Linked DNA regions of Homo sapiens. The protein of the gene in region 2 interacts with the protein of the main gene of each other region in a biochemical or structural test. Each region holds a gene or a part of one and is shown on either strand. Other genes may lie near its edges.

Evidence for each region.
Region 1: the proteins of XPO1 (region 2) and DESI1 form a complex in vitro, tested with the Homo sapiens proteins (one study listed by BioGRID).
Region 3: the proteins of XPO1 (region 2) and CHORDC1 interact in a test that uses a peptide from one of them, tested with the Homo sapiens proteins (one study listed by BioGRID).
Region 4: the proteins of XPO1 (region 2) and ADAR form a complex in vitro, tested with the Homo sapiens proteins (2 studies listed by BioGRID, with this or other methods).

The regions. Positions count from the first base shown.
Region 1 is NC_000022.11:41,597,038-41,604,388, reverse strand, and holds the end of DESI1 (desumoylating isopeptidase 1), read left to right. Parts: intron 1-235; coding exon 236-345; intron 346-1,007; coding exon 1,008-1,130; intron 1,131-3,198; coding exon 3,199-3,292; 3' UTR 3,293-6,361; downstream 6,362-7,351. UniProt on the Homo sapiens protein: Protease which deconjugates SUMO1, SUMO2 and SUMO3 from some substrate proteins. Has isopeptidase but not SUMO-processing activity. Desumoylates ZBTB46. Collaborates with UBQLN4 in the export of ubiquitinated proteins from the nucleus to the cytoplasm.
Region 2 is NC_000002.12:61,478,814-61,486,648, reverse strand, and holds part of XPO1 (exportin-1), read left to right. Parts: intron 1-686; coding exon 687-881; intron 882-2,543; coding exon 2,544-2,712; exon of another isoform or gene 2,713-3,557; coding exon 3,558-3,692; exon of another isoform or gene 3,693-4,022; intron 4,023-4,109; coding exon 4,110-4,269; intron 4,270-5,367; coding exon 5,368-5,464; intron 5,465-6,065; exon of another isoform or gene 6,066-6,324; intron 6,325-7,682; coding exon 7,683-7,829; 3' UTR 7,830-7,835. UniProt on the Homo sapiens protein: Mediates the nuclear export of cellular proteins (cargos) bearing a leucine-rich nuclear export signal (NES) and of RNAs.
Region 3 is NC_000011.10:90,219,780-90,228,480, reverse strand, and holds the start of CHORDC1 (cysteine and histidine-rich domain-containing protein 1), read left to right. Parts: upstream 1-5,431; 5' UTR 5,432-5,526; coding exon 5,527-5,590; intron 5,591-5,781; exon of another isoform or gene 5,782-5,952; intron 5,953-8,701. UniProt on the Homo sapiens protein: Regulates centrosome duplication, probably by inhibiting the kinase activity of ROCK2. Proposed to act as co-chaperone for HSP90. May play a role in the regulation of NOD1 via a HSP90 chaperone complex. In vitro, has intrinsic chaperone activity.
Region 4 is NC_000001.11:154,590,747-154,598,581, reverse strand, and holds part of ADAR (double-stranded RNA-specific adenosine deaminase), read left to right. Parts: coding exon 1-180; intron 181-605; coding exon 606-754; intron 755-1,314; coding exon 1,315-1,459; intron 1,460-1,586; coding exon 1,587-1,777; intron 1,778-7,835. UniProt on the Homo sapiens protein: Catalyzes the hydrolytic deamination of adenosine to inosine in double-stranded RNA (dsRNA) referred to as A-to-I RNA editing.

The DNA.
Region 1 (7,351 bases), on a different chromosome or scaffold from region 2:
CTGTAATCTCAGCTACTTGGGAGGCTGAGGCAGGAGGATCACTTGAACCCGGGAGGCGGAGGTTGCAGTGAGCTGAGATTATACTCCAGCCTGGGTGACGAGAGAAACTCCGTCTAAAAAAAAAAAAAAAAAAAAAAAGTCAGAACAGAGTGTTTGTGGTCTACTGTGGGAAGCCACATTAAAACATTCAGTGGAGATGGTAACTTAATGACTTCCTTTGGGTTGGCTCTTTTAGGGAGGGACATTGCTTGGGCCTCCAGACTCTGTGGTTGATGTGGGGAGTACAGAAGTCACAGAAGAAATCTTTCTGGAGTACCTCTCCTCCCTGGGGGAGTCCCTGTTCCGGTGAGTGGAGACAGGGGTGGTGGTTAGTTGTGTCTGTCTCCCCAGCTAGATAATAACCCCTGGAGGCAGCTGCCATGTCATATCATCCTTATCACTCAGCACAAGGCCTGGCCCAGTTTTTTGCTGAATTAACATGAAGAAAAGGCAGTTATGCTACAAAAAGCTCTAAGTTGTTCTGATACAGATATTCCTTCAAACATACTTTCTGCCGAAATTTTTAGAGGAAATAAGGGCTTTTCATTCCTTCTGATTAAAATCGGCAAGCGCTGTTCTCAACCTGTATTGGCCAAGTTTGCAGAAGGAAAAACAGGGTTTGCAGAAGGGTTGGGATGAAATACAAACTTGAGCAGATTTTCTCTGAAAGAGGCTTTAGTCAGTTTCAGTAAGGGGGTAAACTCTTAACACCAGAGTTCTGCTTTCGTGAATGTAAAGATTCTCCTGAAACTGTGTAGGAGCCATGTCTTTTCAGTTTCTCCTTCCCTTAAAAATCAGTTATTAATGGCCAGAATGGCAAATAAGCAGTGCTTTTCTGGTGTATGAGACGGGGGAAATCGCAATCCTCACATTGAGCTGTGCTCACCATTCCACTGCCTAGCTTGAGTTATTCCACATAGACGCTTGCTGGTTTCTCATATATGTTCTGCAAACCTTTCAATGTACAGAGGTGAGGCCTACAACCTCTTTGAACACAATTGTAACACCTTCAGCAACGAAGTGGCACAGTTCCTGACTGGGCGGAAGATTCCTTCTTACATCACAGACCTGCCCTCTGAAGTTCTCTCCACGTAAGTGTGGCCTCTGTCCCTGCCCCTGCCTTGGCCAACCTTGAAAATCCCCATTCACGGTCAGTGCCCTTCCTCTGGCCCCCATCTGCCCTCCCAACCAGGTGGGCCTGCCCTGATGGCAGATTCTAACACAGAAGGCTGCCATTCTCTCCACCCACTGATGCGCACCTGTATTACCTCCACCTTCAGAGCTAGACCAGCTCTGCCCTGGCCTAAGTGCAACCACAGAACTTAGACACCCACTTGACACTGGCTTCAGTACTTGCACAAAATTCTGGCGTCTGTCCTTCCCATTGTGCTCGAAGCATGCCACTCCCCAGAAGCACCCAGTTAAAATGCAATGTTAGACAAGCAGAGAGGGGGTCAGAAAAATAGTAGGGGGGCTTGTTTTGTAGCTGTTGATTTGCCTTACACTGCACCATGAACTCTTTGACTCCCTCAACGACTATGTTCTACTTGCCCTCATGTATTACAGCACAGTCTTCAACAGATGTTTTCTTCAAGAACACTCTGCAGCCCGTTCTGTCCTGATGTGCCCCAAGCCTTGGAAGAGCCTTGCAGGCCATCATCCAGGCAGTATACCCCGAAAGGACACAACACCCCCAAAGCCATCTCACCTCCTCCCTCTTGTCGTTGATTGCATTCAGGCAGCCTCTGCTCATTCCAGGACCATGTCTATTTGCTTATTCTGACTCAGTTTCTCCTGAACTATGGCCTTATTTAACAGAGATCCTGGCAGGTTTCGCAGGCCCAGCAAGGTGGGCTGTTTTTTATATCTGAGGAAGCACCTCCCAGGAAGAGCTTGCATAGGAAACAAGACTGCTGTGGCAGGCTGGTGAGGAGCCCCAGTCCGCCAGCCCTGGCCCTGCCTTCCTATCATTCGATGAGTTTGCAGTCCCACAGCTCTGCTGAGGGATCTAGGTTATGGGGCCCTGAGCAAACTGGAGTAGCCAGAATGTGCTTGCTGTTATTATTTTATGGGTGGAGTTCCTGGAATTGTCTGAATTAGGTTTGATATTTCTAGGTTTCATCTGTCTATACTTTGGAGTACTTCATTCCTTTAAACTTGGAGATGATTTTCAAAAATGGCAGTATCCACTGAAGAAAAAGCCAGTGACTTAAAAGTTTCTGGGCAACCTTATTTATGGTTGTCGTAATCATGGAAAATCTCCAAACTCCAGTATTTGTAGTTTTTTTTCCATCTGTTACTATGAGAGCAACCTAGGAGCCCTTTAGAAAGGCATTAATGGCTGGGCCCAGTGGCTTATGCCTGTAATCCCAGCACTTTGGGAGGCCGAGGCAGGCAAATCACTAGGTCAGGAGTTCGAGACCAGCCTGGCCAACATGGTGAAACCCCATCTCTACTGAAAATAAAAAATTAGCCAGGCGCAGTGGCACACGCCTGTAATCCCAGCTACTTGGGAGGCTGAGGCAGGAGAATTGCTTGAACCTGGGAGGCAGAGGTTGCAGTGAGCCGAGATCACGCCATTGCACTCCAGCTCTAGGCTAGAGGTAGACTCTGTCTCGGGGTGAAAGAAAGGCATTAATACTGGCAACCTAGCATTTGTCATTTTTCCAGAATATTCCCTGTACTCCCTGGCAGACCTCTGTTCCTGAAAAAAATCCAGTTGTTTGCTGTCCTCACCCCTTTGTCTTCTTTTTCATATCCTTCTTCTTTTGCCTCAGTTTCCCTGCTTAAATTTGATCTTTTCCTTGCTCACAAGAATTAAAGACACAAGCACATAGAGCACAGAAAGTTCTAGTTCTCTGTATGTAGCCAGCCTACTCAAACCACAGCTAACCAGGCTCTAGAGGTGAGGCCCTGAGGAGGGAACCCCAGGAATAAAAATACAGAGCAGGCTATTTCGGAGATGCCCTCCAAGAACACTGGTGTGTGAGGCAGGTGGGAAACTTAAGTGAGGTGACGAGGTGCTCTTTCCTTCTCTGCTGGTGCTGCTTCTGCTGCCACCAGCGCCCACTCCTCCTCCCTACCCGTGGGCAGCACAGGGTGTGTGACAGCAGGCCACATCCCAGAGCCCACCCCTCTCATGTCTCTGTTTCCTTGCAGGCCCTTTGGACAGGCACTTCGGCCCCTCCTGGACTCCATTCAGATCCAGCCTCCAGGAGGGAGCTCCGTGGGCAGACCCAACGGCCAGAGCTAACAGGACTGCCTGGGACCGCCCTGCCTCACCAGGGCTTTTCCTTTTTAAACAAAACAAACCCTACCAGATTTCTATTTTATAATTTTACATCAGAGCTAACAACCAGGGGACGGCTTTTTAAATTTCCCAGGGAAGGAGACCGTCAGGCCGCATGTAGACAATGCTGCTAAGAAACAGAACAAAATGCCACCCCTTCTAATAGTATTATACTAATTTATTAAGGCTGTCTTGTCTGTGCGTTCACTTCGGATGCTGTTTCCTAAGCGTCCTCCACACTGGAGAAAGGGAGGGGCTTTGTTTAAACAGAAAGCGAGTCACAGTTTGCGGGAGCCCCAACCTAGAACTCTTTCCAGAGAACACTCACGCTCTACCCAAGTTGCCAACACCTGTGGGACCCAGGTGAGTTTTAGAACATCCGTGACCCAGAAAGTTACTCTAGTGTTAAATGAACCAAAGGATTTGGTGTACATGGGACCGGTTTCAGGATGACTAACCTAACCTAAGTGAACTCTTTAGCCACAACCCTCACCTTCCCTCCCTTACCCCAAGCAAGGCCAGTGCTGGAGCAGCCATTGCCTCCGGATCAAGGGAGTAACAGCAAGTATCAGGCCGGAGAAAACAGGATAAAGCCATTCCTCCTTCCACCTAGATGGATTGCCAATCTTCTGCCATCAATTTTGGGAAACCTGCCTTTGTGCCCCCGAGGCTGCCTTTCCTCAGCATAGCTGACTTGTCATAGTGGATGAGGTCTGGGCTGGAGCAGTAGAAGCCAAGGCCTTTTTTCTGCAAGTAATGATGTAGGTTATTTGCAGTCTCTGTAACCACCATCCAGGCCAGTACGCAGTATTTAGCTGGGGACCAAGGGATGGGATTCCCTACTCTAAGAAAATACCTTTATTTTAATTATTATTATTTTTTGAGACGGAGTCTCGCTCTACCACCCAGGCTGGTGTGCAGTGGCATGATCTCGGCTCACAGAAACCTCTGCCTCCCGGGTTCAAGTGGTTCTCCTGCCTCAGCCTCCTGAGTAGCTGGGATTACAGGTGCGTGCCACCACGCCAGGCTAATTTTTGTATTTTCAGTAGAGACAGGGTTTTGCCATGTTGGCCAGGCTGGTCTGGAACTCCTGACCTCGGGTGATCCACCTCCCTTGGCCTCCCAAAGTGCTGGGATTACAGGCGTGAGCCACCGCTGCCTGGCCAGAAAATACCTTTGATATGGAAAGAATAATGATGTGAGGCCTGGCGCGGTGGCTCACGCCTGTAATCCCAGCACTTTGGGAGGCCGAGGCAGGCAGATCACTTGAGGTCAGGACTTCAAGACCAGCCTGGCCAACATGGTGAAACCCCGTCTCTACTAAAAATACAAAATTAGCCGGGCATGGTGGCGCATGCCTGTAGTCCCAGCTACTCGGGAGGCTGAGGCAGGAGAATCGCTTGAACCCGGGAGGCAGAGATTGCGATGAGCCGAGATCGTACCAGTGCACTCCAGCCTGGGCGACAGAGTGAGACTCCATCTCAAAAAAATAAAATAATGAAGTGGAATCAAGGTGGCAAGAAAATTTAGAATCGTTTCTGATAGGGACTTTCCCTTATCCTAAATGTGTTTTGAAGGCACACGTTATTTCCATTGTCATTCTGACTTTAGAAAGGCAGGTTGGGGCATGAGTGGGCATTTTCCTAATGACTTGCTGCTAGGAGGTTATAGGCAGGGAACAGTCTGGGAGTCTCTAATCCAGAGAGACTTTCAGATTCCCTCTCTTCACATGAACCTCCATTAGTTAGATTTTGGGAAAGTGAGCATGAAGAAGGGACTCAGAGCTGCCAGGTACCCGAGTCTCAGGTCTGACATCCTTGGGCCCCTTCTGCCACAACTTCTTGCCACTTCACGGACTTGAATTATGTTGCTTCTTCCTGGAAGTCTGGCCTGCAGCACAGGCCTTTCCTCTCCAAAAAGCTGCTGCTCATTTCTGGCCCCATCTGCTGCTATCTTTGCCATCAGCCATCACAGTTTGGCATCATCAGAGTCTCAGCTAGAGGAGCTGTCATTCTGCCTTAGTGTTTGCCTGCGACCTGACCAGGGGCATGACCAGCTGGGATGTCAAGTGACATTTGGGAACTTGTAGAGGCCAAATGATTGAAAGTTTAATTCTTCTCAAGACCCACTGATTTGCCAGTGTGCATGGAAATAATAGATTAGAGCAGAAACTAGCAGGGACTGTTGTATAATCGTGATCTACTAGCAGAATTGGGCCCAAAGAGAAAGAATTTCTGAGGCTGGGTTTCTTCTGGGAGGGTAGCAGGTTGGTCTTGGCCAGTGCTCTGTTTCCCACCAGTGTTGTTCCCTTTTCCAGCTTGCCTGGCCCGGCTCTGTCTTCCAGGGTCCTGCTCCAGACCCCTCTGCCTGGGGTCTCCCCTCCATCCAGGGGGTTCTGGGCATCACAGCTCCTTTTTTTCCTTTCTCCTCTTCCAGATCCAGTTTCAGCTGGTTTGCTTCTTCCAGCAGGCACCCTTAGGCCCAGGAGCAGCTCCCCTGAGAGAATTTGAGTCACTCATTTCCTTGAACAGCACCCCCCTTTATACTAGCAGCCATTTGTGCCATTGCCTGTGCCCTAGGGTTTGTGGGGAGAGAGCGAGGGATCACTGAGCAGTTTTCCCAGAGCTCCATGGGAAGGCAAGCTCTCCCTCCCAATGGGAGCCCCACTGTCACTAACTGTAAACTCAGGCTCAGGCTTCAACTGCCTACCCCCATCCTCATATTTCTGTCTGTCCCAGCACCTCAGGAGCATTCTCATTGTGGCCGGCTAACTCCGCCTGGATGTGAACAGGCAAGCACAGTGGGAAATGAGTCACGTACTTGTATTGCACAGTGGACACCTCTAGAGGTCCATTGGTTTAAAGGGATAGGGAAGGAGGAGGGATGAGACCATCACCCCCTCCCAGAAGTAAATCTAGTATCTGAGTTTTCTTTATGCCCTTGAGTCAAACTAATAACTGTCTAGTACGGAGGTGTTTGCTGGTTTTCTTCGGTGTTTTTTCTAATGCAATAAACTCATTTCTGCCTGCTGCATTTGTGTGGTGCCTGAATCAGGTCTGCACATGCATCCAACATGAAGCGACCCCAGGCTTTTGGGTCCCTTGGAGCTTAAGTCTGCGGGGTCTGGATGTGTCTCCTTTGCATGGTTGTGAGCCTGTAGATAAGAAGTGATAACAGGGAAGGATGTCTGAATTTCACCACTGGTTTATAAAGATGGGGGAAGGGCCCAGAGAGAATATCACTTGCCCAAGGTCACCTTGCAGCTGGTGCAGCTCAATGCTTTGTCTGATAACTTCAAATTCTGTAGTCTTCCTCTAGCTATCAGGAGTGTCTGACCTCACCGAAAAGTGTTCACTTCTACTTTCAACTTGGCTCTAGGTTGGGTCTGTGGCTCCTCATGCCCAGACAGGCTGTAGCTGAGAGGGCACGCAAGGAGCCTAGTGGGGGCCTGGCACACCACTGAATGTGAGCCCTTGACCACAGGGCCTGGCTGCTCTTGAAAGAGGCAGAGTGTGTCTGGGACGAGGCTGCCCCACTGGTTCCCAGGTTGGAGAGCCAGGCAAGGTCACGCTGCAGTGAGAGTGATGGATACCAGGTGGCGCTGTGGCCCTGCACACCAGGCCCAGCCTACTGCCCAACGCCCAATGCCAGGCTGGTCTTGGGTACCCTCGGCCACCTCAGTAAGCTCGTCCAGCTCCCCTCAGCCCGTGTGGACCCCTACGAGCCCATGGGGTAAGAGCCAAGCTCCTTGTCCTCATTTATCAAGGCCCTTCTCAATCTTGTCCTTGAACACCCTGGTCCTACCCCACACCCTGCTGCAAGTGCCAGTCCCAGTCCCTGTCACTTCTGGTGGTTTCACACCTCCAAGCCTCGGTTCACCCTTTGCTCCACCTGGATCCCCTTTCCCCACCCCTTGTTCAGTGCTAAAGGCCCAGTTCCAGCATGTCCTCTGACCTGTCCCCACCCAGAGCTGACTCCTTGCTCCCATGGGTACCTCCAACGCACTCCCACCAGCCCAGTACC
Region 2 (7,835 bases):
CCCGTCTCTACTAAAAATATAAAAAATTAGCTGGGCGTGGTGGCAGGTGCCTGTACTCCCAGCTACTCGATAGGCTGAGGCAGGAGAATGGCGTGAACCTGGAGGCGGAGCTTGCAGTGAGCCAAGATGGCACCACTGCACTCCAGCCTGGGCGACAGAGCAAGACTCCGTCTCAAAAATAAAAAGACAGTATTGAGGGCTCGCTTGCTGCCATCTTACATATACAGTATACGTAGAATCCTGATTCTGCCACCTAAGTTGGAGACACCCACTGAATTTTGAGCCTCACTTTTCTTATTGTGAGAGTTTTGTAGCTGGGCATGGTGCTATACCTATAGTCCCAGCTACTCAGGAGACTGAGGCACAAGAATTGCTTGAACCTGGGAGGTGGAGGTTGCAGTGAGCAGAGATTTGCCACTGCACTCTGGTCTGAGTGACAGTGAGACTGTCTCAAAAAAAAAAAGTCTTGAATGACAGTGTGTCCATGAGACTTCCCAACCCATTGTGATTTCCTGCTTTCTTTTGCTAAAAACTGTTTTGACGTAGGAAACCCTAATACAAACACAAGATTTTCCTGTTTTCAGTAGATGATCATGCTACATCTCATAGACAGGAATAACCTTGTTGTTTAAAATAGTCACCATGTACCTAAATTAAAACATAACTTTTTTTTCCCTCCCCAACAGGTCGCTGAAAATTTTGTTCCCCCTCTGTTGGATGCAGTTCTCATTGATTATCAGAGAAATGTCCCAGCTGCTAGAGAACCAGAAGTGCTTAGTACTATGGCCATAATTGTCAACAAGTTAGGGGGACATATAACAGCTGAAATACCTCAAATATTTGATGCTGTTTTTGAATGCACATTGAATATGATAAATAAGGTGTGTAATATTTCAGTTATGTAAGGGGGAAATTCTGCAGGATAGCCTTAATTCTTGAAAGCTAAAGTATGTCTGTGGATATAACATAATTTTAATGCCATGGAGTTTAAATATTTAAACTTGTATATTAGGGAAATACTTTCTTGGTTTTCAAGAACTTACTTCCCAGGAGTTTGAAACCAACCTGGGCAATATAGTGAGACTTCATCTCTACAAAAAGTTCAAAAAGTAACCAGTCATGGTGGCATGTGCCGGTAGTCCCAACTACTCGAAAGGCTGAAGTGGGGGGGGGGGTCACTTGAGCCTGGGAGTTCAAGATGGCAGTGAGCTGAGATTGCGCCACTGCACTCCAAGAAGAAGAATTTACTACACAGAATCTTGATTGGTAAAAAGTAAATATGGAAAACAGATTTTAGCATTCACATGGTATGTAGCATTTATTGAAACCTCATAGGTCGGGGCATCCTTTTATGAACGTAGTTGTATTAATTGGTTTGAATAAATGAGAAAGTAAGTCTGCATGTTTCAATTATAAAAGTGTAGTATATGCTTATAAGAAACTGAAAAATGTGTTAACAAGAGAAAATAGGCTGGCCATGGTGGCTTACACCTGTAATCCCAGCACTTCAGAAGGCCAAGGCGGGCGGATGACCTGAGGTCGGGAGTTCAAGACCAGCCTGCCTAACGTGGCAAAACCCCATCTCTATTAAAAATACAAAAATGGCCAGGCGTGGTGGCTCAACACCTGTAATCCCAACACTTTGAGAGGCCGAGGCCGGTGGATCACCTGAGGTCAGGATTTCAAGACCAGCCTGACCAACATGGTGAAACCCCATCTCTACTCAAAGATTAGGCTGGGTGCCGTGGCTCACGCTTGTAATCCCAGCACTTTGGGAGGCCGAGGTGGGCAGATCACGAGGTCAGGAGATGGAGACCATGGTGAAACCCTGTCTCTACTAAAAATACAAAAAATTATCCGGGTGTGGTGGTGGGCGCCTGTAGTCCCAGCTACTCGGAGAGGCTGAGGCAGGAGAATGGCATGAACCCGGGAGGCGGAGCTTGCAGTGAGCCAAGATCGCGCCACGCACTCCAGCCTGGGTGACAGAGCAAGACTCTGTCTAAAGAAAAAAAATTAGCTGGGCATGGTGCCGCATGCCTGTAGTCCCAGCTACTCGGGAGGCTGAGGCAGGAGAATCTCTTGAACCCAGGAGGCGGAGGTTGCAGTCAGCTGAGATTGCGCCACTGCACTACAGCCTGGGTGACAGAGTGAGACTGTTTAAAAAGAAAAAAGAGATAAAAGATACGTTAAGTGGACACATTTACACGGTAACTTAAATTTTTTTGTAATCTGTAGTGGTGATTTCAAATTAAAAACAAAAGTGATAGTAGTAGTCTTATGGTAATAATGGTTTAGATGAGTTCTCTATTAAAAAGGTTGTCTTTCTCCTTCAATTTGATAACTCATGTGCGTAACGGGACAGTTTCATTTTCCGTGAGAGGTGGATTGTATTTTACTTGGGTTTACCTTTCAGGAGGCATTCTATCTTCTGTGGTTTATTGAAAACTCCAAATATTTATACTGGATTAAGCCTTGCTTTTCCCCTCCTGTCTAGCACAACAAAGACACTGAAACATTATTTTGTTTCCACCACTTATTTTTAGGACTTTGAAGAATATCCTGAACATAGAACGAACTTTTTCTTACTACTTCAGGCTGTCAATTCTCATTGTTTCCCAGCATTCCTTGCTATTCCACCTACACAGTTTAAACTTGTTTTGGATTCCATCATTTGGGCTTTCAAACATACTATGAGGAATGTCGCAGATACGGGTAAATAAAAGATGTTCTTTTATTCATTTGCCTGCCAATCCAAAAATACAAATATAGTTAATTGTACATAGGAAGGTATTACTTGTTCAGAGTTTTGAGTGTGTGAATTACATATATGAACATCTGAGAAAATCCTATAAGCAGTTTAATCAACTGTTCCACTCCACTCCAAGTGAGTCCATAGGCAGAATTGAGTTATGGGGAGAGCGGCCTAGTAATAATTGGTTTGCGTAATACAAAGTTCTACTGGGTAGTGATGTTGTAGAAGTTCATATAGAATCAGCTGAGCTTTCAGAAATGGTGAAAGGGTGGTAATAGTCATAACTTAGATTGTAATTTTTTTCCCATAGGCTTTTAAAAAATATTCATGAGGTTCTTTTTTTATTTCAATAGTTTTTGGGGAACAGGTGGTTTTTGGTTACATGAATAAGTTCTTCAGTGGTGATTTCTGAGATTTTGGTGCACCTGTCATGTGAGCAGTATGAACTCTACTTTATGTGTAGTCTTATCCCTCATGTGTATGAACTCCACCTTATGTGTAGTCTTATCCCTCACCCACTCCTGCCCTTCCCCACAAGTCCCCAAAGTCCATTATATGATCTTTATGCCTTTACATCTTCACAGTTTAGCTCTCACACAACTTATTATAATTTATAAGTAAGCCAGCATTGGATATAGTTGTATTCCATTATTAATTTAAGAAACCTTATGCAAGTAATTATTAGTCATCATCCCAAAAAAAAGGGAGAACAGGGTTAGATTCAGAATACTTTGATAAGAGCTAAATACTATCATGAGTGCTGTCAGTCTGTAGTAACTTTCCATTGGTATTCTATGTCTTTTAGGCTTACAGATACTTTTTACACTCTTACAAAATGTTGCACAAGAAGAAGCTGCAGCTCAGAGTTTTTATCAAACTTATTTTTGTGATATTCTCCAGCATATCTTTTCTGTTGTGACAGACACTTCACATACTGCTGGTAAGAATTTAATACGATTTAAATGTTAAGTGCCAGCTGGGCACAGGGCCTCACGCCTATAATCCCAGCACTTTGGGAGGTCGAGGCGGGGAGATTATGAGGTCAGGAGTTCGAGAACAGCCTGGCCACCATGGTGAAACTGTCTGTACTAAAAATACCATAAAAAAATAAAAGATACAATAAAAATACTGGGCATGGTGGCATGTGATTGCAATCCCACCTATTCGGGAGGCTGAGGCAGGAGAATGGCTTGGACCGAGGAGGCAGAGGTTGCAGTGAACTAAGATTGCGCCACGGCATTCCAGCTTGGGTGACAGAGCGAGACTCCGTCTAAAAAAAAAAAACAAAACAAAAAAAAACGCTAAGATCTATAGTTATATTACATTTTGGAGTTAATAATTTTCTTCTTATCAACAGGTTTAACAATGCATGCATCAATTCTTGCATATATGTTTAATTTGGTTGAAGAAGGAAAAATAAGTACATCATTAAATCCTGGAAATCCAGTTAACAACCAAATCTTTCTTCAGGAATATGTGGCTAATCTCCTTAAGTCGGCCTTCCCTCACCTACAAGAGTAAATATACCTTTTAATAAACGTAGAATGTTCCTGGTCGGGCACAGTGGCTCACACCTGTAATCCCAGCACTTTGGGAAGCCTAAGGTGGGAGGATTGCTTGGGCCCAAAAGTTGGAGACCAACCTAGACAACAAAACAAGATCCCGTCTCTACAAAAAAAAAAGTAGTCAGAAGTGGTATGCATCTGTAGGACCAGCTGTTGGAGAGGCTGAGGCGAGAGGGTTGTTTGCATCCTGGAGTTTAAGACTGCAGTGAGCTATGATCGCACCACTGTACACCAGCCTGGGTGATAGAGTGAGACCCTGCCTCTTTAAAAAAGCAAAAAAAAAAAAAAAAAAAAAAAGGCCACGCACGGTGGCTCATGACTGTAATCCCAACACTTTGGGAGGCTGAGGTGGGTGAATCACAAGGTCAGGAGTTCAAGACCAGCCTGGCCAAGATGGTGAAACCCCGTTTCTACTAAAAATACAAAAAATTAGTTGGGCATGGTGGTGGGTGCCTGAAATCCCAGCTACTTGGGAGGCTGAGGGGGAGAACTGCTTGAACCCAGGAGGCAGAGGTTGCAGTGAGCCGAGATTGTGCCACTGCACTCCAGTGTGGGTGACAGAGCAAGACTGTCTCAAAAAATAAAAAGGCTGGGCACGGTGGCAAACGCCTGTAATCCAAGCACTTTGGGAGGCCTAGGCGGGCAGATTACCTGAGGTCAGGAGTTTGAGATTTGCCTGACCAACATGGAGAAACCCTGTCTCTACTAAAAATACAAATTAGCCGGGCATGGTGGTGCATGCCTGTAATCCCAGCTACTTGGGAGGCTGAGGCAGGAGAATAGCTTCAGAGGTTGCGGTGAGCCGCGATTGTGCGATTGTACTCCAACCTGGTAAACGAGCAAAACTTTGTCTCAAAAATTAAAAAAAAATTCTTGATTAAAAAAAAAAAACATTATTGGGACGCTGAGGCAGGAGAATGTCTTGAACCCGGGAGGCAGAGATTACAGTGAGCAGAGATCATGCCACTGTACTCCAGCCTGGTGACAGAGCAATACTCTGTCTCGGGGGAAAAATAAATCATTATTTAATCATTGTGTTTTGATTTGCAGTGCTCAAGTAAAGCTCTTTGTGACAGGGCTTTTCAGCTTAAATCAAGATATTCCTGCTTTCAAGGAACATTTAAGAGATTTCCTAGTTCAAATAAAGGTATGTATTTATTTGCTCTTGCAGAAATATTAGGGGTAGATGTGACCACTTTTATGTTACATTGTAGAATTTTTATCACTTGATTTGTCATGCCAAATAAATGGGGTTTCAAGATAATACGTTTACACAATCTCTGTAATCAAAAAACCTGAGACTGGTAATACAGTGAAAAACTAAAGTCCAATAAGGATAGATATGTTTGAGATGTTATTCGGATAAACTTATTACTAATGTAATTCATTTTAGGTAGTCTTAAATGTATAATGGAATATTGGGTAAGAAAAACGTTGGTAGTTCTTTTTATAATTTTATACCAATTTTGTTAGTTGAGGGAACTTGTGAAAGTTACTAGATAGAATGTCTTTCTTCTGCTGTTATACAGTGCTTTATTCATACTTTTGGGAAGGGTTTTTCTTTGAACATCTTGCTTTAAAGAAATTTGGAAGTACTGTGAAACCCTAAGTAGTTGATGAATAGTTTATCCATGATTGTTGAATAAGAATTAGTCTCTTAGCTCTTAAATATTTTCTCCAAAATACAAAGGTTTTTTTTTTTTACTGTAAAAATATTAGCCAATTTTTAAAAAACTAATGAAAGTTACCTAGGCTGGGCGCAGTTGCTCATGCCTGTAATCCCAGCACTTTGGGAGGCCAAGGTGGGTGGGTCACCTGATGTCGGGAGTTTGAGACTAGCACGGCCAACATGGTGAAACCCCCGTCTCTACTAATAATACAAAAATTAGCCAGGCGTGGTGGCGCACAGCTGTATTCGCAGCTACTTGAGAGGCTGAGGCAAGAGAATTGCTTGAACCCACGAGGCAAAGGTTGCGGTGAGCCGAGATCACGTCATTGCACTCCAACCTGGGTGACAAGAGTGAAACTTCATCTCAAAAAAAAAAAAAAAAAGTTAACTGATAGCTACGAAGTCAATGATAATATAACTAAACTTAATTTAATGACAGTTATTAATTAGCCTTAGGAGAAACATCTTTCTTGGTATCTTGGCATATGAAGAATTTTTAGCTGGGCACAGTGGCTCACACCTGTAATCCCAGCACTTTGGGAGGCCGAGGCAGACAGATCAGTTGAGGTCAGGAGTTCAGGATCAGCCCGGCCAACATGGTGAAACCTCATCTCTACTAAAAATACAAAAATTAGCCAGGTCTGGTGGCAGGTGCCTGTAGTCCCAGCTACTCGGGAGGCAGAGGCAGGAGAATCACTTGAACCCAGGAGGCAGAGGTTTCAGTGAGCTGAGATCATAACACTGCACGCCAGCCTGGGCGACAGAGCAAGACTGCCTCTCAAAAGAAAAGAGAAAAAAGTGTCTGGGTGCAGTGGCTCATGCCTGTAATCCTAGCACTTTGGGAGGCCGAGACAGGTGGATTGTCTGAGCTTGGGAGTTTGAGATCAGCCTGGGCAACATGGTGAAACTACGTCTCTAGTAAAAATACAAAAAATGAGCCAGATGTGGTGGTGCCTGTAATCCCAGCTGCTGGGGAGGCTGAGGCAGGAGAATTGCTTGCATCTTGGAGGAAGAGGTTGAGATAATGTGCTGGGGCTACAGAACAAGACTCTATCACAAAGAGAACAAAATTTGTGTGAATACATAGTAGGTGTATATACTTAGGGGATGGGATGCATGAGATACTTCGGTAGAAGCATACAATGCATAATAATCACATTGAAGACTATTTACTGTAAGGTATCACACCATTTTTTTTGTTTTTTTTGGGGGGGCACAGTCTCGCTTTTATCACCCAGGCTGGAGAGCAGTGGCGTGATCTTGGCTCACTGCAACCTCCGCCATGCAGGTTCAAGTGATTCTCCTGCCTCAGCCTCCCAAGTAGCTGGGATTACAGGCGCCTGTGCCACCATGCATGGCTAATTTTAGTAATGACAGGGTTTCACCATGTTGGCCAGGGTGGTCTCCTGACATCAAGTATTCTTCCCGTCTCTGCCTCCCAAAGTTGGGATTACAGGCGTGAGCCACCATGCCGGGGCCCATGATTCTTTTGTAATCTTCCCCCCCACCAGTTAACAGGTTTGCAGTTCATTCAGCTATGTAGTATACTGTGTCACTATCCTATAATTTAAAACCCAGCCACTTTATGGATAATTTATATTCCTTCCTTCTCTAAAAAGGAAATTGCTCATCTATGATTTCTTTCTTTGCAAGTTGAAGTTTATTGCGTTGACATTTCAACTATCTGTTTTCACAGGAATTTGCAGGTGAAGACACTTCTGATTTGTTTTTGGAAGAGAGAGAAATAGCCCTACGGCAGGCTGATGAAGAGAAACATAAACGTCAAATGTCTGTCCCTGGCATCTTTAATCCACATGAGATTCCAGAAGAAATGTGTGATTAAAATCCA
Region 3 (8,701 bases), on a different chromosome or scaffold from region 2:
GTAGAAATTTATATTTAAACAGGAAACAGAGCATAAAAGTTTGGAAATTTTGCAGCCTAGCCATATGGCAGAGAAAGAAAAAGCTTTTTTGTAGAGAGGAATTCAAGCAGGCTGTGGAGCAACCACCTGCTAGATACATTGGCATAACTAAAAGGGAGCCAAGTGCTACTATTCAAGACAATGGGGAAAACAACTTGAAGTCATTTCAGCGAACTTCATGGCAGCCCCTCCCATCAGAGGCCTTAGGAGGGAAGAATGGTTTCATGGGCCGAGCCCTTGGCAAACTACTCTCCCCACATCCCAGCCACTCCAGTTCCAGCTATGGCTCAACAGGGTCCAGGTACAGCTCGGGCTGCCACTTTGAAGGATGCAAGCCATAAGCTTACATGGCTTACATGAGATGTTAAGCCTGTGGATGTACAGAGTGCCAGAGCTGAGGTTTGGAAGCTTCTGTGAGGGTTTCAGAGGATGCATGAAAAAGCCTGGATGTATAGGCAGAAGCCTGCTGCAGGGGCAGAACCCTCACAGACAACTTCTACTAGGGCAATGTGGAGGGGAAAATATGGGGCTGGAGCCTCCACACAAAGTCTCTAATGAGCACTGGCTAGTAGAACTGTGAGAAGAGGGCCACCATCCTTCAGACCTGAGAATGGTAGATCTATTAGCAGCTTGTACTCTGTACCTGGAAAATCCACAGGCACTCAATCCCAGCCCATGAGAGCAGTTGGGGGAGTTGTACTCTGCAAAGGTATAGGGGTAGGGCTGCCCAAGGCCTTGGGAGCCCTCTCCTTGCACCAGTGTGCCCTGGATGTGGAACATAGAGTCAAAGGGGATTACATTGGAGCTTTAAGATTTAATGACGGCCTGCTTGGGTTTTGCCTTGCATGGAGCCTATAGCCCCTTTCTTTTAGCCAATTTCTCCCTTTTGGAATGGGAATGTTTACCCAATGCCTATACATACCTATTGTATCTTGGAAGTAACTAACTTGTTTATTTTACAGGCTCATAGGTGGAAGGGATTTGTCTTGTCTCAGATGAAACTTTGGACTTTTGAGTTAAATCTGGCAAAGGTCAAGATTTTAGGGGATTGCTGAGAAAGTATGATTCTATTTTGCAATGTGAGGACATGAGATTTGGGAGGGGCCAGGAGAAGAATTATATAGTTTGGATAGTTTTCCCTGCCCAAATCTCATGTTGAAATGTAATCCCCAATCTTGGAGATGGGGCCTGGTGGGAGGTATTTGGGTCATGGGGGCGCATCTCTCATGAATGGCTTGGGCCATCCCCTGGGTGATGAGTGAGTTCTCCAGTTGAGTTCACATGAGATCTGATCATTTAAAAGTGTGTGGCACCTCCCCCACCACTTGCTCCTGCATTTACCATGTGAAGTACAAGCTCTCATTTTGCCTTCTGCCATGAGTTAAAGCTTCCTGAGCCCTTCCTGTATAGCCTGCAGAAATGTGAGCCAATTAAACCCTCTTTTCTTATAAATTATCCAGTCTTGGGTATTTCTTCATAGCAATGCAAGAATGTCCTAATACATCTGGTATCCCTTATTTCTGAGCATTGGTTTACCTCGATGATTCTGTGCTTTCTTTAATGTTATACTACCTTCCATTGCAGGACTTCTGTTTAGACTAACACCTATGCCTGCACTCCAACTCAAGATTAGGCAAATTCCCATCTCCACTAACTTAGCATAACGTACTTCCCATTCATAGCATTTATGGCAATTATCAGTGATTGAATTCATAATTGGGAATATTTGATTCACATCCGTCTTTCTTATAAAATTCAAATACAACGAAGACAGGTAAAATGTCACTTCAGTTCACCACTGTATCCTGCATCTAATGTACCAACACACATTAACTACTTAATACATGCTGAAATAAATTAAAACCTATATATATATTTTTTTTTTAAATCGTGGACAAAATAAAAAAGCAAGCACATACTTTATTTAGAAAATAGAATAAAATAAAAGCAAGGAAGCAGACACAACTGCATATAAAAGGGAAAACAAAAGTGAAATAACCAAATAGGACTAAACATCTAAGTTGACCATTTTCATTGCTAAACTTTTGTGAAATTATCATTCAGTGCTTACACTAGACTATATGTTTTACATGCATTGTTTAACTTAATCTTCACAGCACTCTGTTATCAATGTTTTACAGATAAGAAAACTCAGGCTTATTGACGTTAATTGACTTATAAAACCATTAATAAGTTCTGGGCCACTTTGGCACCTGAACTTTCAAGCATTAATCAGAAATAAAAAGGTTAAGCTTCTCTGCAAAATAAAAAGATTCTCGGATTTGAGTTAAAAAAAGAAAAACAAGATGCAATCTATCTGCTGCTTACAGCAGATATGCCCAAAACAAGATGACACAGGTTAAATATAAATGGATAGGGTGAGGTTTATTAGGCAAAAACAAAGAGAAACATAGCAAAAGTTGAAGCATTAATATCAAAGTAGGTTTCAAGACAAAAATACAAAATGATACAAAGAAGGTCATTTTATATTAAAAACATAAACTATGTAAATACGAAAGACATGCACCTTTATAGGATGAATAATATATGTTCAAAATACAGAAACCACAAACTGCTCAACACACAATCATAATGGATGAAATTTTCATCTTTCGAATAAAGTAGAACAAATAAAAATAGTCATTGTTAAGTTGGTTTTTTGTCCTCTTCATAATGTTAACTATATCAAAAATGAGTATGTATTTACATTTTCAAAACATATCTAAGAGTATAAAGTAAAATATTAACTTTACTCCTTTAAACTCATCCTTGTCTTTATACATATCCGTTATTATAAGAGATTAATGGTCTTTTCAAATATTATTTTATACACGTACATGGATACATACATATCTATAATCGTTTTTAAGATAATGGAACTTAATTATTATTTATTTATATTATTAATTAATTTTTTTTTGAGATAGAGTTTCGCTCTTGTTACCCAGGCTGGAATGCAATGGCATGATCTCAGCTCATTGCAACCTCTGCCTCCCCGGTTCAAGTGATTCTCCTGCCTCAGCCTCCCGAGTAGCTGGGGTTACGGGCATGCGCCACCATACGCAGCTAATTTTTTTGTATTTTTAGTAGAGACAGGGTTTCGTCATGTTGGTCAAGCTGGTCTCAAACTTCTGACCTCAGGTGATTCACCTACTTTGGCCTCCTAAAGTACTGGGATTACAGCCGTAAGCCACAGCACCCAGCCCAAGATAATGGAGCTTAATTAAACTTAACTGAATTGTTTTAAGAAATATTTTTAAATGCAGAAAAAGAGAGTAGTATGATAAACATTCATTTTGCACCAAGAATAATTGACAATTGTTTTAAGTTAACATATTTATTTAAGTCTTTTGTTAATAACAAGATAGTCAAAGTTAAAGCATATTTTGATATGTATGGGGGTAAAGAAGGAAGGGAAGATATATTCAAAGTGTATATAAAATATACATGTAAATTCTAGAAAGTTTTTCAAACAGTGGGTGTTAGTCAGCACTGAAGTGTTGGAATGGAAATGTAAGTGGAGGTGGGATTGAAACAGGCTGTTGCTGTAACACTGTTTTTCTTAATCATAAGAATGATTTAATTTTATAGTTTCTCAAAATACCCAAGGGAGGAACATAAACTCCTATATATAACACGACTCTTTTTAAACATATATATCTATAAATGCTTGGGGTGTCAGGAAACACTGAAAATAAATTTACCAAAGAGTTATTTTAGCCATTCAGTACTTATTGCTGGGTGGTGGAATTATTGTTGACTTTGTTCTTAGTATACTTCTGCGTTTTCCAAATTATCTACCATAAGCAATTATATTCTGATTGTAAAATGCTACAGATGAAAAACTAGAAATAAACATTAAAATTATTTAAAAGGTTTAGTTCACTAACAATCCTGGTAATGTTGCATTGATACTAGGATACTCAAGACAACAGATTTGGTCACAACTAAAACTTTTTAGAGCTCTCCACTTACTCATTTCCAATTGTGTATGATCAATTTCTACGGTCTATTACATTCACAGCCGGTGCAATTGTAAATTGGTACCACCTTTCGGAAAGCAATTGGCTCTATATATCTTTAAAATCTTAAAGTTATTTAAAAAGCCTTATGCCCTTTACCCCAGAACTGTCGCTTTCCAAAAATTTTCCTAAAGGGGGAAATTCGAAATAAGAAAAACAATACACAGGTTGAGCACTGTAACTTATATATAATAAAGTTGGGGAAATTAGAGAAAGGTTAAATTACAGTGCATTTATTCAACAGAATACTCCGTCATTTGTAACAATGACTATGAAACAAAATAGAAAAATACTCACGTTAGGTTAAATGAAGAAAACATACCTATCTATGGTGGATCACAATATGAAAATTTAATACTTCTAGGTAGAAGAAGAGAAAGAGAATATGAAAAACTAAAAAGTCTTTAGGGGTAGGAGGACGTGAGCAGATCTCTAAATAACCTTGAGATCAATGGAAACAGTGTATAGATTTTTAGGTTCACTTATAAGCTGCTGATCTTATTTTAAGATCCTTCAGTATATGTTATCAAAAAGTGTTTGCTTTTCTTGCAAACGCCCATGTTTGGGAAATATGCAAGTTGAAGCCAATGCATTACTGTACTTTTTATAATGCACCTGAAGTTTTACTAGCTGTTCCAAGAGTGGTGTACTGAGTATTGATAAATCGTTTAAGTGGAGGCTCACATGAAATATTAACTATTACCCCAGGGCTTTAGAGCAACTGTGATCAATTCTGGCACAGCATCAGATCCATAATTTTCTTTGCTACTCTGATTTCTACGTTTTTTGTATTTTCAAAGTAATGTGACCGCAACTGTTAAGTTATTAAAATTGCTCCTGAGATGAGGGCACTCGAGACACAAACACACGGAGAGGTTCGTCCGCTATTCCTCTCATTTACTAAGCTCACACGTCTACCCTGAGGATTTGGAAACACTGTATGATTCTGCACTTACTGTGCACTTATCCCTTAGTGCTAAGGGGTAAACAGATACCCACCGGGCTGTCTAAGGCGCAGCCTCAAGGCAAGGAAGAAGGGTGCTGGGTCGCAGGGGATGAGAGGGCGGGGCGGCCACTTTGCTGCAGGAGATACCCAAAGCCAGTTAGCACTGAGGAAGTCAGAAGAGAATTGTCAGTCTCTCGGACACCTTCATTTTCTGCCCCGGAAATTTCTCCTCCGCTGTTGTCTGGGCTCCACTTCCGACCCCCAGTTGCTACCAGCTGTAGTCCGACCTATCGTGGCCCGGGCTAGTGCCAGCCTCCCGCCGCTACCTCCGCCTCGTCCCTTCTCCTCTGCGCCTGCGCGACCGGAAAATTCGCGAAGGTTCCTGAAACGCAACGGATCGTTTCCGGAAGCCGGTAGCCGCCTCAGTCGTCAGACCGGTGCTAGCGACACGGGAGTGGCAAACGCATCCTCTTGCCGTTCCCGGTGTTTGGGCCTTGCCTGTGACGGTGGGAAAAGAAAATGGCCTTGCTGTGCTACAACCGGGGCTGCGGTCAGCGCTTCGATCCTGAGACCAATTCCGACGGTAAGAGGAACGCGCCGCCAGCCCTCCCTCCCCTCCACCTCATCAGCAGGGGAGGCCCTTTGGGCCGGAGGGTGTCCGCGGATCTCCTGCAGCCGTCCTCGCGCGGCCCCAGGTCCATGCCCCTCCTGGGCCTCCCTTGGCTGCCCGCGCAGCCCGCCGGCCGCCCCTCTGTTGCGCCGCGTTCCCTTGGCGAGCGCCCGGCCCCGGCGCCTGACTGTCCTCTGCCACTGCGGAGAGAGACGCTCCCATGGATCCACGTGTTTCCCCCGTCGTCCCCGCACTCCTTTTAAGTCGCCTGGAATTTAGAACGAACACGTTTCTCCTCTGGCCCTCCAGTCTCTGGGGAAGCAAAAATTAACGAGGTACTGGTGAGCTTGCTTTGTAGTTCCCGAAGTAGTGATGGCTGTGATTGCCTGCGCGAGAGGGAGAGGTGGCCGGGATGAGCAGCGGGTTGTCCTAGCATGTAAGCTCTGCCTTGTAGAAGTTTGTGTTCAGTCGATCCGCTGTTACAAACCTCTTACAAGTGTTCTTGGTAAGGGACATTACTCTGTATCTTCACGCTGTTTTGATAGGTTCATCCTGGTGGTACGTTAGTTATCTTTTTATTACTAGCGGCATTTGTTGCTTGTTCTTCTTGTGGCCTCCACGTTTTACTACCATGCCTACTCCCGTATAAAATGAGTGAATGTCATCTACAGCACCTAGATGTCGAGTTAAGGATCCAAAGCGAAAATGACTATTAGGTGAAGGACGGGAAATGATCAGTGAATTGAAATTTTGATTGACAAAGAAGTGAGATGATTCCTTGCGTATCGTGAGAAGTGACAACACGTTTTCAGATTGAACTAGCATTTAGTTTATATTTTCTGCATGCCAGCCATTATTGCTTTATCTTATTTAATCTTCATAACCACCCTGGGACGCATGTAATGTTAATTAGACCCATTTGATAGAGAAGCTCAGTTCAATGAGGTTGTATTAATAACATCCTTCATTATTGTGGAGGAGATGAAAACTGATGCCTTTTGAACTCTTCACCTCTGAGATGTTTGAAATACTTATTTTTGGCACACAGGTAAATTGATAGCGTTATTTAAAATAAGACCATTGATACAGAGTTTTAAGGAAAAGGAAAATCCAACCTATGCAATACTCAAGTTACCGCCACTGACATTTTTATGATGCAAATATGATGCTACTCATGAGGAAAATTGTGAGATTTCAGTCGATGACAAAATCGAGAAACGATTTTAAAGCCCTTTGGTGTTGGCAGCCTATGTAAAACATTAATTGCACTTATGTCTGCAGATATTCTACTTTAATATAGAATACAGGGGAAAGACTGACGCTTTGCTTATGAGACAATAAAGTTCAGGGGCGATAGTCATTTGTTGGAAGTCTGTATCCATGTGTGAATTGGTGCAGTGCCTAGGAAACAGAAAGCGACCAGGAAAACCGTCTCAAAACTTGGGTGGTCAGCAGTACTAGTTACAGCAGAGAAATTCCAATAAGTATATTTACTTTAGCGAAATGACGGTTTTTTTAGAGACTTAGAATACATTTTTCAAGTAAACTGATTGAGTGAATGGAAGGAGAAGAAAATGGAGATACGGAGTAGGAGACAAGAACTAAATAGAAAGGTTGGTTAGGAGGTTTTTTAGGAAGAGGTTTGACCTTGTACAGTTGACAGAAATAAGTTAAAAGAGGTAAATACACAAGCAAGTTCCATTTTGCGTAAGCCAGATGTTGGATCTGTCATCTTTAAATATTTCTTAATCTACACTAAATGCTTTTTTTCTCGGTGCTGTGGCATAATTACCGTGCTCGTTGACTTATAGTCTCATGATTTTTTTTTCCCCCTAGAGACAGAAATTAGACTCCCTTTTAAGCTGATAGAACGTTTTAACTTGTAACTGAAGTTAAAGGGTGTTTAAGGGAGACACAGTTGGTAACTTACATATGTTAAACACTTATTCTAGAATAAACACAGCTTCACAAACGGTATTTTTTTTAATCGACGTATACGAGGAAAACTGAAGGAACTACTAGCGAGTAGCTCAGTGAGAAATTTAGCCAGGGTCAGACCCAATGTTAGAAGCCCTGGACACTTAACCACTGCTACTGTCTTGTAGCTTCTCACCCATAAAATATTAATTTTGCCAAAACTCTTAAAACTGATAAAGAAAGGATGGATATTAAAGAAAGAATGAAGAATGTCCATTTGCTTGTTACTTCTTGTTTTTGAAAGCAGTGGCTTTCTAATTGTGTTCATGTTAGTTGTATGGTTCAGATCTGACTCATTCCTGCTGCCATGCTGCCAAAATTGACTTATTGTGACATTTTATGCCTCTGACTCTGTTATACATTGCGTTTATGTTTCTGACTACTTTAAATTTGGTGTTTGAAAATACTGGATCTATTCTCTACTTCCATTCCCCTCTCAACTTCATGTCCTTCTGCATACCCATTTCTACTTCCAACCTCCTTTTTCAGCCCTTAATTCCACAACTACCCTTAATTAATAACATCTTTCTGATCCCACGGATTTACTTACTGTATCAGGAAGATACCTAACACTTTCTACATTAGCTAGTATCTATGCAGCACATGGTTACTAAGGAAGCAATACTGGCTAGTAACGGGGTAGGGAGATTTCTGTGAGCACCAGTAGTAAATTTTGAGGCAACACCAGGAATCAGGTGATAGAGCAAGGGTGTTCAATCTTTTGGCTTCCCTGTGCGACATTGGAAGAAGAGGAATTATCTGGGCCACATTGGAAGAAGAATAATTGGGTCACATATGAAATACACTAACACTAATGATAGCTGATGAGCTTAAAAGAAAACAAAAACAAAATTCATAATGTTTTAAGACAGTTTACGAAATTTGTGTTGGGCTACATTCAGAGTTGTCTGGGGCGGCATGTTGGACAAGGTTGTTGTAGAGCATTGAAAGCTAAATAGACTTGAAAGGTTGAAAGATAGTCTTTTAAGCAGATTGCAGAGGGATGAAGCTGACTGTTACCTGATTTTTAAAAATATAGTACTCCATCTTGCAAATTGCTGAGAGCAGCTTGGTCGTGGAGACCCTAACCCGGTGGTGCTAGAGGAA
Region 4 (7,835 bases), on a different chromosome or scaffold from region 2:
AAATTCCAGGTTGTCATCAATGGCCGAGAGTTTCCCCCAGCTGAAGCTGGAAGCAAGAAAGTGGCCAAGCAGGATGCAGCTATGAAAGCCATGACAATTCTGCTAGAGGAAGCCAAAGCCAAGGACAGTGGAAAATCAGAAGAATCATCCCACTATTCCACAGAGAAAGAATCAGAGAAGGTAGGTGTCCTCCTGCCATCTGGGAGGATCAGTTCCCTGTCAGTGTCTGGATTGTAACTGACTCCCTTGAGGCAATCCCAGCCTAAACAACTGACACCATCTCGGAGTCAGCTTCCCACTCTTCCCTCTACCCTATCTCGCCAGCCCACCTTTCCTCCTCTCATACCCAGCTCCTCTGTCTGCTCCTGTCCCAACATAATTGGATTTACAGAATTTCGGACTTGAAAGAGACCTGAAAGTTTATTGAGGCCAATCTCCTCTCTTGGAAGATGCGGAATGAGAGCTCCAGCAGCCCCTTTAACTTTGGGAAGCCAACCCCTTGACAGGTGGTGGGAATAAAGTCCCCCATCCCCATCCCTTCTTCTGTGATGGACTAACCAGTGTTTTCTTAGTTTTGTTTTCTTCTTGTCTCTCATTTTCTCTAGACTGCAGAGTCCCAGACCCCCACCCCTTCAGCCACATCCTTCTTTTCTGGGAAGAGCCCCGTCACCACACTGCTTGAGTGTATGCACAAATTGGGGAACTCCTGCGAATTCCGTCTCCTGTCCAAAGAAGGCCCTGCCCATGAACCCAAGTATGTCCTACGTGTCCTCTGTCCAGCTGAGGTTTTCTCAGAAAGAAAAAGAGACACATTTTCTTCCTTGCCTCCTCAGGGATGGCAGATTGACCAATTTCTCCTGTTTCAAAATGGGGAAAGGAGGGCTCTGAGGTCCTGGTTGCTGCTTGTGAGGCAGACAATTAGGGATTAGGAATTCAAAGGGAATTCCTGGCCCACCCTCTATCTCCTCTATAAGCACTAGGGAGGTTCACGGCTTGGAGGTCACTCACTGTTGGTGGGACAGAAAGGTACAGGACCTGAGAAGCTCTCTGCCTGTGGGTCTATAGACTCACATGTTCAAGAGAAGTGTTCCTGGAAGAGGTGAAACTAGGTTGATGCTTAAATGTTGAAAGGGGTCAGCCAGGCTAAGAGACACTGGCTGTTCAAGGCAGAAGTGACTGCATGAGATGTGACTGCACAGAGGTGATGTGTTCAAGGAAATTACCAGTAGTGGAGGATGGCAGCCTGGCAGAGGCTAGGTCAGGCTCCTCAGTCAAAACCATTTTAATCCTTCTACGTGCTTCATCTCCTGTCAGGTTCCAATACTGTGTTGCAGTGGGAGCCCAAACTTTCCCCAGTGTGAGTGCTCCCAGCAAGAAAGTGGCAAAGCAGATGGCCGCAGAGGAAGCCATGAAGGCCCTGCATGGGGAGGCGACCAACTCCATGGCTTCTGATAACCAGGTAGGGCGTTTTCCTACTCAAAAGATACAGGTCATTTTTAGCAACTGAGTGGTTTAAGATTGCCAGTGACTCCCTCAACATTTCCTGAAGTGTTTATGGCTCCTCTGTTTGATGGATTCTCCTTTAGCCTGAAGGTATGATCTCAGAGTCACTTGATAACTTGGAATCCATGATGCCCAACAAGGTCAGGAAGATTGGCGAGCTCGTGAGATACCTGAACACCAACCCTGTGGGTGGCCTTTTGGAGTACGCCCGCTCCCATGGCTTTGCTGCTGAATTCAAGTTGGTCGACCAGTCCGGACCTCCTCACGAGCCCAAGTGAGTGTCCTAGTCCTGGCTAATGCATGTGTCACCAGTTGGGGATGGTCTGTAACCCAGGGAAAACAAGGGTGTGCTTTAGCTGTGTAGGACAGAAGGGGCGAGTTGAGGGAAACAAGTCCAGCCCTGTCTCCACGGCCTCTTAGAAGACAATAGACCTGCCAAGAGTGAATGCGTTCACTCTTCCAGTAAGCATGATCCTTTTTAATTTTTTGACTAGTTTTAATTTTTAAAGAAATGTATAGGTACATTAAAAAATCATTCAGGCCAGACATGGTGGCTCACGCCTGTAATCCCAGCACTTTGGGAAGTTGAGGCAGGTAGATTACCTGAGGTCGGGAGTTCAAGACCAGCCGGACCATATGAGGAAACCCTGTCTCTACTAAAAATACAAAAATTAGCTGGGCGTGGCAGCGGGTGCCTGTAATCCCAGCTACTCGGGAGGCAGACAGGAGAATTGATTGAAGCTGGGAGGCGGAGGTTGCAGTGAGCTGAGATCGCACCACTGCACTCCAGCCTGAGCAACAGAGCAAGACTCCATCTTGAAAAAAATCATTCAAGCTGATTGAAAAAGTAGTCATTTCAATGAAAAGTCTCATTTCCGTCTCAGACTTCTAGTTTCCCTCCCTAGACCCATATATTACTATAGCCCTGCATTAGCAACTGGGATGCGGTCTGAGAAGCATGGTTTTGTTGTTGTGAGAACATCAGTGTGTATTTACATAAACCTAGATGGCATGGGCTCCTACACACGTACAGGCTGTATGGTATGGCCGGTTGCTCCTAGGCTACAAACCTGTACAGCATGTAACTGTAGTGAATACTGTGGGCAGCTGCAACACACTGGTAAGTATTGGTGTCTATCTAAACAGCAAAAAGATACAGTAAAAAGACAGCATAAAGGATTAAAAAAATACTACACCTGTATAGGGCGCCTGCCATGAATGGAGCTTGCAGGACTAGAAGTTGCTGTGGGTGAGTCAGCCAGTGAGTGGAGAATGAATATGAGGGCCTAGGACATGACTGTACACTAATGTAGGCTTTGTAAACACTGTTCACTTAGGCTAACTACATTTATTTAAAATATTTTTCTTTAATAAATTAACCTTAGCTTACTGTAACTTTTTTACTTTATTTTTACTTTATTTTTTACTTTATTAACTTTTTTATTTTTTGTTCCTTTTGTAATAATACTTAGCTTAAAACACAAACATGTTGTACTGCTATCCAAAAATATTTCCTTTGTTTATATCCTTAATTCTATAGTCTTTTTTCTGTTTGTAAATTTTTTTATTTTTTTAACTTTTTAAACTTTTTTGTTGAAAGCTAAGATGAAAATACATTAGCTGTTAGCCTAGGCCTACACAGGGTCAGGATCCTCAGTATCACTGTCTTCCACCTCCACGTCTTGTCCCACTGTAAGGTGTTCAGGGGCAATAACATGCATGGGGGCCGTCATCTCCTATGGTAACAGTGCTTTCTGGAATACCTGCCTGAGGCTTTTTTTAGTTACTTATTTTTCTAGAAGTAGAAGGAGTATACGCTGAAATAATGATAAAAATATAGTAAACACATAAGGAGCGTGTAGCCTAGATCCCTCGCATTCACAGTTCACAGTCGAGTTCACACTCCTACAAGAATCTCATGCTGCTGCTGATCCCACAGGAGGCGGAGCTCGGACCAGAATGCTTTCTTGCTCGCCACTCACCTCTTCCTGTGTGCCCAGGTTCCTAACAGGTTACAGAGCCCTGCACTTGGTGATAAGAATTTTTCAGCTCCATCATAATCTTACGGGGCCCCTGTCATATGTGTGATTTATCATTGAACAAAACACTGTTATGCAGTACATGACTATACCAGTTTCTTGAGTCCTTCTAGAAATTGCTGTGCATAACTAGCACATTTTCCCTTTTGTCTTTTTAAACAAGTATATCTTCTGTTTTATACGTTGACTCCTTTACTTACCAGACTTCTTGCATAGCTGCATAGTATTTCATTGAATAGAAGCTGACAAATTCAGTTTCTCAGAAGTAAACATTTAATAGGGACTTAGGAACAGAAATGATGTCTTGGGTGGCTGCAAGATGGTGGATCCCTGCACTTACCCTCCAGAAAGTATGCTTTCTATAGAGGCTTTTTTGGTTAAACATGCAGCTGGTCACACATTATACTTTCTTGTGAAACTTATGAGCACTAGCTGGTGGGGAGGCTTGGTAGACATCTTTGTGTGGAATTATTTATGCTACCCAACACTTTGGGATGCGGGAGTCAGATATTGGTGGTCATAGTGGTTTTGCATCAAGATGGCATCACTCTTGCCATGCAACCGGCATGTTTTCTTAATCTCTAAGGTCTATCACAAAGTGGAAAAGCAAGGTGTAAAGTGAGGGGAGAGGTGAAGATTGTCTGTATATGTCTAGAATATTTTCTTGAAGGATCGAAAAAACTGGCAACTGTGTTTGCTTCTGGGGAAGGAGGGACACTTTTATTGTACACTCTTAACTGTTTGAATTTTCACATGTTTGGCATCCAACTTGTCCATTTTAAAGTCATTAAGGAAAAAAGCTTATAAAAATGCTATCTTGTTACTTTAAATTTGTCTCTCCTTAATAGAAGTAATGTCAGCCGGGCGCAGTGGCTTACGCCTATAATCCCAGCACTTTGGGAGGCCGAGGTGGGTGGATCATTTGAGCTCAGTAATTTGAGACCAGCCTGGCCAACATGGTAAAACCCCATCTCTACTAAAAATACAAAAAATAGCTGAGCATGGTGGTATGCCCCTGTATGCCAGCTACTCCGGAGGCTGAGCAGGAGAATTACTTGAACCCAGGAGGCGGAAGTTGCAGTGACCTGAGATTGTGCCACTGCACTCCAGCCTGGGTGATGGAGTGAGACTCCGTCTCAAAAAAAAAAACAAAAAAATCAGAAGTAATGGCATTTCATTTATTCATATTTATGTGTTATTTGCATTTCCTTTTCTGTGAACCACCTGTTCTTGTCCTTTTCCAGTTTTCTTTCAGATTGTTACTCTCATGGATATGTAAGAACTTTTAACATAATTTTTAAAAGTAGCCCTTTGCCCAACATGACCCAATTTAGAACACACATCTGCCCACTGTTTAAGCCATCTGGAAAAGGAGAGGCCCAGTCTCCCTCCAGCTGCTCTTCTACTAATTCATATCCTTCATCTCAATAAGCACCTCCTTATCTTTAAGCACAGTCCTTCAGATGATAGGTTCAGTGCATTTCCTCTTTCTCTTCTGTGAAATCTTCTGTGAAATCCTTTCTAGGACTTCAAGTCAGCCATTCATTGAGAATGTAAGAACTTACTATGAACTAGATGGAAGATACAAAAAATTGCTGCCCCTGAGTGTGTAGCAGACATATAGCCATAGCAGTATTGAAATGTGCCATTGGAGGTGAATGCAGAGTGCTGTGGGGACACAGAGGACACTGCTGCCACTGTCTGCCAGGGAGCTGAGGAAGGTTGCATAGAGAGGGGAAATGCTAATTGAGTAACTACGTTTATTAACTATCTCGTACAATAATATACTTTAGTTGCTTCTTAATGTGAATTATGCTGGGTCTTTTTTTCCTTTCTGTCTACTGTGGCTGGTGACGTTAACTAATTTTATGACTTCTTTTCTGTTTTTTTTTTTTTTTTTTTTTGGAGATGGAGTCTCACTCTGTCACCCAGGCTGGAGTGCAGTGGCGCAGTCTCAGCTCACTGCAACCTCCGCCTCCTGGGTTCAAACAATTCTCTTGCCTCAGCTCCTCGAGTAGCTGGGATTACAGGCATCTGCCACCACATCTGACTATTTTTGTATTTTTAGTAGAGACAGAGTTTCACCATGTTGGCCAGGCTGGTCTTCAACTCCTGACCTCAGATGATCCACCCGCCTCAGCCTCCCAAAGTGCTGGGATTACAGGCATGAACCACCGCGACAGCCATGACCTTTAATATCTAAATGCTGGAGACCACTCAGAGCTCCCGATTCCTCCATCTAGTTGCTTACTTGTCACCTCTGTTTGGATTAACATCCCTAATATGACATGTCCAAAGCAGAACTCTTGGGTTTTGCCCCCTTCGCTTCATTTCCCCCAAGTCTTTCCCAGCTTAGTAAGTGATACCACTGTCTACCCAGTGGCTCAAGTCAGAAACCTGAGGATCATCTTTTCCTCTATCTCCTTTACCTCCTTCGTCAACTCATCCTTAAGTCCTATTGGTTATACTTAGAATTTCTATCCCAAATCCCTTCCTCTTCTTTCCACCTCCAGCGTCAGCACTCTAATCCAAGCCACTGTCTCATCTAGACTGTCACAATAGCCTCCTAACTGATCTTTATACTTTATTTACTCAACACTTATTTATGGAGTATCTTCTATTTTTTTTAGAACAGGAACCAAACATTAACCAATAGTCACCTAAAGAAATGTAAGATCTCATATTTGATAAGTATTCCAAAGGGCTGGAGTTGCAGCGAGAATCAATTATAGCACAGTTTGACTTAGGAAGGAGAGGGGGAAGGGCTTCCCCAAGAAGTACTGCCTGAGCTGAGACTTTAAGGATGATGAAGAGAGAAAGACTGAGGGTTCTAGGCGAAGGACACTGTTAAATCCTGTGGTGGGAGAAGCGCAGAGCTGGCAAAGAGGCTGAGAGGAGGCACTTATGGCAATAGCCCCATTTGGCTAGTGGCTACCATATTGGATAGCACAGCTCTAAAGGATTCTAGTTGCATAATTAACAAACTTTATCATATATGTAAATATATCAGTATAAAACTTTGCACGTAAGAGTTCATATTCTTTTCAAACACATGGGGCAGTCATGAAATTCTCCTGGATCCCTGAGGTAAAGATACTACACAATCTGTCCCTCCTGACCGCCTTCACCATCTTCTTTTCATGCCACTGTCCCTCTCATTCTGAACTTAAGCCCACTGGCCTGCACGGGCCTGCCAGCATGGACAAAGAAAAGAGTGAAGGCATTTAGTTGCTTCGGATCATCAAGGAACAGTGAGAAACTCCATGTGGTTGAACATAAACGTTGATTCCTTTTACTGCCTGAGCTGCTAAGTCTTGAAACTGAAGCCTCTGTTATATGCAGTTAGAGTATCCAAAGCTGGGTTCTCAGCCAGTAGATTAGGATCTGGTTGAAAGCTAGGATTCTTGATGCCTTGTCTGGTACATTTCCAAGCTGTTTTGCTCCACCATGCTCTTCCCTCTGTGTTTGGAAATTACCAGCCGGAGCGGTAGAAGCCACCTCCCTGCTCCACTTGGGCACTTTATTGTCAGCGCAGCTCATGCGCCCAAGATCCATTCCTTACCCCAGAGTTAGCTTAAGCCTGCCAGGAGTCAAAAAAACAACTCCCAGCAAAACCTGGGTCCCTGGCCTAAGGCCGACCTTGACCTAATGACCTCTCCAGGTCAAGTCCCCTTGAGCTAATAGGAAGTAAATGAGGGAATGGAGTTGGGCGCTTTAAAAATCAGACAGTGTATGAAGTAACAGTGACTTGTGGGGAGAAAGGTAGTCCCTTCTGATTTCTGCTTAAGAAGAGAGTCCAAGTTGGTGCTAGCATTTCGTTAAGCCTTCCTCATACTTCATAATCTTCCTTTATAGTAAGGACAGGCTCAGAGCCTTTGCAGGTAACAGTATCTAGTCAGAATTTTATAACATGATTTTATCATATTCTGTTTTACAGCCACCTTCAATATGTGGCAAGTGATACTGGTTTTCCATTTACAGTAGTGAAACAAAGTTTCCTATTTCAGTGTGTTTACATTTTTATCTCTTTTTTCATACCTAGTATTACGGATATTTACATTTTTAGAGTCTGTTTGTTTATTTTAGAGATGGGGATCTTGCTGTCTCGCGCAGGCTGGAGTGCAGTGATATGGTCATAGCTCACTGCAGCCTTGACCTCCAGGGCTCAAGTGATCCTCTCACCCCAGCCTCCCAAGTAGCTGAGACTATAGGCACAGACCACCGTGCCCAGCTAAATTTTTTTTTTTTTTTTTAAGAGACAGGGGTCTCGCTATGTTGCCTGGGGGATTACTA